Regions from separate parts of the Homo sapiens genome. Here region 2 is linked to region 1. Evidence: fine-mapped QTL for protein levels in blood plasma. A gene starts in region 1. The other region holds a variant in brackets. All regions are shown on one strand. Distances are from middle to middle.

Region 1 (2,911 bases):
CCTTCCTTCCTTCCTCTTTTTTTCTTTCTTTCTTTCTTTCTTTCTTTCTTTCTTTCTTTCTTTCTTTCTTTCTTTCTTTCTTTCTCTTTCTTTCTTTCTTTCTTAGTTTCTTTCTTCTTTCTTTCTTTTTTCTTTCTTCTCTTTCTCTCTCTTTCTTTCTCTCTCTTCTTTCTCTTTCTCTTTCTCTCTCTTCCTTCTTCCTTCCTTCCTCCCTCCCTCCCTCCCTCCCTTCCTTCCCTCCTTCCTTCCTTTTCTTTCCTTCCTTCTTCTGCAACCATGGCAAATGAACTATGCCATGATTTCTTATGGCATTTGTTCAAACATACAGAAAAGCAGAAGAACATAATGAGCCTGCAGTACCCTCATTAACTCCAGCAGGGATCAGAACAGGTCCAGAGCCAGTCTTGTTTCATCTATGTCCTACCTATTCTCCACACTCTTCAATAATTTTGAAGTAAATCCCAAACAACATATAATTATGTGATTTTGATTTTTAAAATGCTTATGTCTTTTATCCATCTGGAATGCTTTTAGAGTTAGAGCTCTTTGTTTTTTGCAGATACCTAGCCCATTCTCCCAACATAGTTTATTGAATAAACCATCTCTTCTCCAATGATTTGAAGTGGTGCCTTTATGATACACTAAATCCCCACAAATATTTGAGTCTATTCCTGTCCCACAAATATTTGAGTCTATTTCATTATTCTGTTCCACTGATTCATCTGTCTATAGTCATGCTCCAATTCCACACTGTTCTGATGGTTGTAGCTCTACAGTGTATTTTGGTATCAGACTAGATTGTTCCCTAAAAGGTGGTTTAGATATAAAGCCTCCCCTGAGGCTCAAAGACACTGTCTGAGAGTGAGGGCCTGAAGTGAGGCAGGATGGGCAGTTCTCCCGGGGCATCCCATACACTTAGCTTCAGCCACGGCTGTGCCCATCAACCTGCTGCTGTCTGGGATAAGGCATTGCCTTGGCAACCAGAGACTGAGGCCCAGTCCTGGCTGTGCCACTAAGGGCTGGGTGATCTTGAGCAGTCCATCTCACTCTTTGGAGCCTCTGCTTAGGAGGGCCTCCCTGCCAGCTCCAGCATTCTCCACTTCAAGACACCAATCAGGGCAGGGATGCCTGGGGGTGCCAGGCAAAATTGTGAAAGGGCCGCCAGTGGTCGCTTCCACAGGAAGTCCTGTAGATGAGCACAGGAGATTGGCTCGCTGGGGAACGGAAAGGGAGATTAAGCAAGACAAGACTGTTAACAGTTCTAGAGCTCGTGGGCTCCGCAGGGCAGCAGTCACCCTACCACCAGGTCCCAGAGCCCAGGGCTGTGTGTTCCACTGGGAGCCTTTGAGAGGTAGGAGCCATCCCAAGGTTGCAATGCTTCTTTTTCTTTGGAAGGATGAGGATGGGGGAGGGAGCTGGGGTCCCTGTTTAACTTCTATGTCAAGGGTGCAAAAGGCAGAGCCCTCTTTTCTCCTGCATTTGGAGCTCTCTGCATGGTCTAAGGGAGGGGATGGGAAAGCACTTGGGCAAGAGGCTGGGGTACATCACTACCCGTAAATGGCTGTGTGACCTAGGGCAAGTCACCTGGTTTCTCAGAGCCTCAGTTTCTCTGTTAGTTAGGAGAGGAGGAGTGAGGATAAGTAGACTGGAACAAGACACTAGGTGGTCTCTCAGGCCCACTGACTTGGACCACTGGGGTTTAGCGACTGTGGCTATTATTTACAGCTATTGAAGCCAGCCAAGTGGAGAGCAGACCCAGTTCTGAGCGCCCTTTGGTGAGACAGTGATGGATACCCGGAGGCCCCAGGCAGGGCCCATGCCAGGTTGTAATCTGCTGCTGCCTGCTGCCCCACCCCACTCTTCTTCTCTGGCTTCCACTTCCTGGTGGGCAGCCTGTGGTGCCTGCTGCCTAACAGAATACCACGGTGGTAGTGGATTCCCGCAGGTGCTTGGGAGTGGGATTCATTTGCTCTCATGTTTGGCTTCAAGTTTTATGCGATTTCTTAGGTGAGGGATGTGGGGAGAGGTGGTCATGCTGAGGGGCTATATGTGTGTCCTAGCCATGAAGGGGTCCCCCACTCTTAAGGACGTGAGGCATGAGGATGCACTAAGGGGAAAGTGGTGGAGGAGAAGGGCGCTGGCAGGGTGGCCCTGCCAGCTGACTCGGAGGGATGTGTGTGCTGGGCGACGGCATTTGCACATGCAGAATGGAATGATGGAATGGCCGTGAGGGGTGCTGTGTCTGACTGAGAGGCTGATGGTGAGGGATTGGAGGGTGAGGATGATGGCCAAGGAGGGTGTGTGTGCGTGCACGTTTGCACGTGTACATTTGTGGATTGACTGAAGGATGTCCTTGCTGTCTCTGAGGGACCAGGCCTGGCCTAGAAGGGACACAGACTGTTTTTAGGTTGTGCTGTCAGGCCGTGGGGGTGCTGTCAGGGATCTGAATGTGAAGGCACGAGGGGTGAGTGCACCATCCCACCTGATGGTGACAAGTGACTGATTTTGAGGTGGCGATGGCTGGAGGGCACCTGCTGCCTTCCTGCCCCAGGCCACCTGTCAGGCAAGGAGCGGGTGGCTGAGTACCCCTCCTGGGAGAGAAGGATTGACTGGCAGAGAGGGCAGATGCTGAGGTGGGGCAGGCGAGGTGTCTGGAAGGTGCTATTTTCTTAAAAAATGCCAGGGGACTGCTGGAAATGGGCTGTGGAGGTGTAGCTTGGCTAGGAACTCCCAGAAAGGAAAGTCAGGAATGCCACATGTCCTAGGATGTGGCTGCAGGGAATTTCTTCCAGGATTCTAACATCCTACACCTGTGGGAGCCCGGCAGGCTGCGATGTGACACTCACATCACAGTGGACTTTGCTTCTGGAGGCTTCTGCACAGGGAATCTTATCTTGCTCCCTTGGCCGTG
Region 2 (2,911 bases), 29 kb after region 1:
TGTGTCAGGAACCTAGGCTGAGCGTAGGGGTGCAGAGGGACAGGGAGCAGCCCTAATAACACAGGCAGGAGGCAACTGCCCCCCAAGGATTCAGGAGGTCAGGGAAGGAGAGATGAGTCAAGCCCAAGGCAGGGGAGAGAGGGCAGCAGAGCCAGAGGTCCCTCAGCCTGGCAGGGCATATATTAGGGCTTCCCAACATGGTCATTAGGGGACAGCCACCCAATCACCTGTCCTTCTAAAAATGCTGGTCTTCTACTTTCAACCTAGGCAGTAGTGATCAAAAATTTTTTTTTCTTCTTGAGATGGAGTCTCGCTGTATTGCTCAGGCTGGAGTACAGTGGCGTGATCTGGGCTCACTGCAACCTCCACTTACCGGGTTCAAGCGATTCTCCTGCTTCAGCCTCTGAGTAGCTGGGACTACAGGTGCCCACCACCACATCCAGCTAATTTTTGTATTTTTAGTAGAGATGGGGTTTCATCATATTGGCCAGGCTGGTCTCGAACTCCTGACCTCGTGATCTACCTGCCTCGGCCTCCCAAAGTGCTGGGATTACAGGCATGAGCCACGGCACCTGGCAGTGATAAAAACTTAAAAGGCATATCTTATTTGATTCTGCAGTTCCACTTCTAGAAATTCATTCTATAAATAGACTCATATGACTATAATAACAAAGGGACCAGGACCAGTCATAGTATTCTCACTTGTGTTATGAAACATAGGAAACAACCTAAATGTCCATCAATAGGGGACCAGTTAAATAAAGGAGGGTCAATCTACCCAGTATAACACCATAAAGCCACACAAAGACTGAGGACTCTCTTTATGTACTAATAGGGATTTTTTTTTTTTTTTTGAGACAGAGTCTTGCTCTGTCACCCAGGCTGGAGTGTGGTGGTGTGATCTCAGCTCACTGCAATCTCCACCTCCAGGGCTTAAGTGATTCTTGTGCCTCAGCCTCCTGAGGAGCTGGGACTACAGACACATACAACCACATCCAGCTAATTTTTGTATTTTTAGTAGACACAGGGTTTCACCATGTTGGCCAGGCCGATCTGGA[A/ACTCCTGACCGCAAGTGATC]CTCCTGACCGCAAGTGATCCTCCTGCCTCAGCCTCCCAAAGTGCTGGGATTACAGGCGTGAGCCACCGTGCCCAGCCCGATAGGGAAATTTCTCCAAGACATCCTGTTAACTGGAAAAAAACAAAATGCAGAACACTGAATATTAATGAGTATGATGAATGTTTTACACTGTATTTGTATAAAATAGAGGGGGAAAGATGTATGTGTATGGGTGTATATATGTGTGTGTATATATATGTATATACGTAAAATGCCTCTGGAAAAATATTTAAGAAACTGATAACCCTGGTTGCCTCTGGGGAGGGGGACTGGGTGGCTCCAGGATGGGGCAGAAGGAAGGAGACTTTTCATTGAGTTCTCCTTGAGACCTTTTGAAATTTGAGCCATGAGAACTGTTACCTAGTCAACAATAACTACACTGTACGAAGAAAAGCATACGGACATGCTCTGTGGGAAGCAATTAGAAGTAGGATAGGTTACTTCTCCCACTTTGCAGAGGCCAGGGCCTGGGGTCTGGATGCCTGGTGTGGCCTCATGCAGACTCTCTGGGCAGGTACCACAGTATGACGCGACAGCTGCTCCGCAAGGCTGACGGGGTGGTGCTCATGTACGACATCACCTCCCAGGAGAGCTTTGCCCACGTGCGCTACTGGCTAGACTGTCTCCAGGTGAGCAGATGGCTGCTGGGGTTGGCCCCAGTCCCTCCAGTCAAGAGGGATCTTATATCCTGCCCACTCCCTCTTTTCTCCCAGGATTACAAATGACATGACAGACATATGGGTGACACCACCCACTGAGGGCATGTGGTTGGATGAGCTGGGAATGCAGTAGTACAAAGAAACCACAACCACATAGTACAGACTTCAAACCAAACTACTTCCTTTATCCTGTGAACATTCTCTTCCTACATATGGCAGCTGTTTGTAATGTCTTCTTCTTACACTTGAGGCTAATGTAGTTCTTGTGCCATTCCATGTGGTAATTCCTCTGTTCACACATCTCTAGTTTTTCCCCTGCTTACTTCCTCAAAGCATATATACTGAAATTCTGCAGTGTGTACTAGCACAGCAGAGGGGTGTGAAGTTAGCCATGTTGCCTTCTCTCTGGAAGTTTCTAGTTTAGCAAAAGAAGCAGGATAAGGTAATGTGTGAAGAGGGGAGCTGAGCACTGGGGTCTGACAGGACCTACATTTGAATCCCACCCACCCGAACTCTGTGACTTTGGACAAGTGAATTGAGTTCTCTGAACTTCAATTTCTGGAATTCTCTCATAGGGGAGTTGTGACAATTAATTGATAGAATTGCTTTCAGCACAGCACCTGGTGTATAGCAATCACTCACTAATCAGAAACTATTATTATTATTCATGAGACAATTGGGAAAATGTATAATCAAGTGCTGGACTGTTCAGAACAGGCAGGAAGAGAGGACATGGGCAGGAACAACCCAGGAAGGCTTCCTGGGGGAGGTGTTCTTAAGGTTGGCCTTGGAAAATAAGTGAGATGTTTATCAGCAGAGAGGAAGGATGGGGGAAAGGGTCCAGGTGAGAAGGTTATGGAGTGGATGTGGCCTGGGAGGGGGAACATGCGGGGGACACAGTTCAGCTTCTAGGAAGGCAAATGTGCCAGGAGCCTGGCACACAGTGGGTGTGGCTGACAGAACATGTTCTGTGTGCAGGATGCAGGGTCGGATGGGGTGGTCATCCTTCTCCTGGGAAACAAGATGGACTGTGAGGAGGAACGGCAAGTGTCCGTGGAAGCTGGGCAGCAACTGGCCCAGGTAAGCACTTGGGCATCAGCCCGTCTCTGTGCGTGGACTGGGCAGACACCTCCCTGGCAGGTGGTGGATAGGCA

Alleles and levels. Alleles are on the strand shown, and positions count from the first base shown. The strength of an association depends on the size of the effect and on how common the allele is.
As copies of ACTCCTGACCGCAAGTGATC replace A in region 2, the plasma level of the protein whose gene starts at base 1,262 in region 1 goes down (moderate association).

Evidence for each region. PIP is the posterior inclusion probability: the model's chance that the variant is causal. Protein levels are from antibody-based Olink assays in UK Biobank. Linkage for the fine-mapping came from a reference panel and not from the study's own genotypes, which makes the PIPs less certain.
Region 2: its variant is fine-mapped to the plasma level of the RAB44 protein (UK Biobank, PIP above 0.99).

The regions. Positions count from the first base shown.
Region 1 is chr6:36,696,565-36,699,475 of GRCh38, forward strand. RAB44 (RAB44, member RAS oncogene family) reads left to right here and starts at 1,262. Exons shown (of 14, transcript NM_001257357.2): 1 at 1,262-1,351.
Region 2 is chr6:36,725,965-36,728,875 of GRCh38, forward strand. RAB44 (RAB44, member RAS oncogene family) reads left to right here. Exons shown (of 14, transcript NM_001257357.2): 11 at 1,613-1,727; 12 at 2,736-2,837. Among named protein-coding and RNA genes, the nearest start is that of RAB44, 30 kb to the left of the region's middle. RefSeq lists an enhancer at 695-834. The variant A/ACTCCTGACCGCAAGTGATC (reference allele first, on the strand shown) is at 1,059.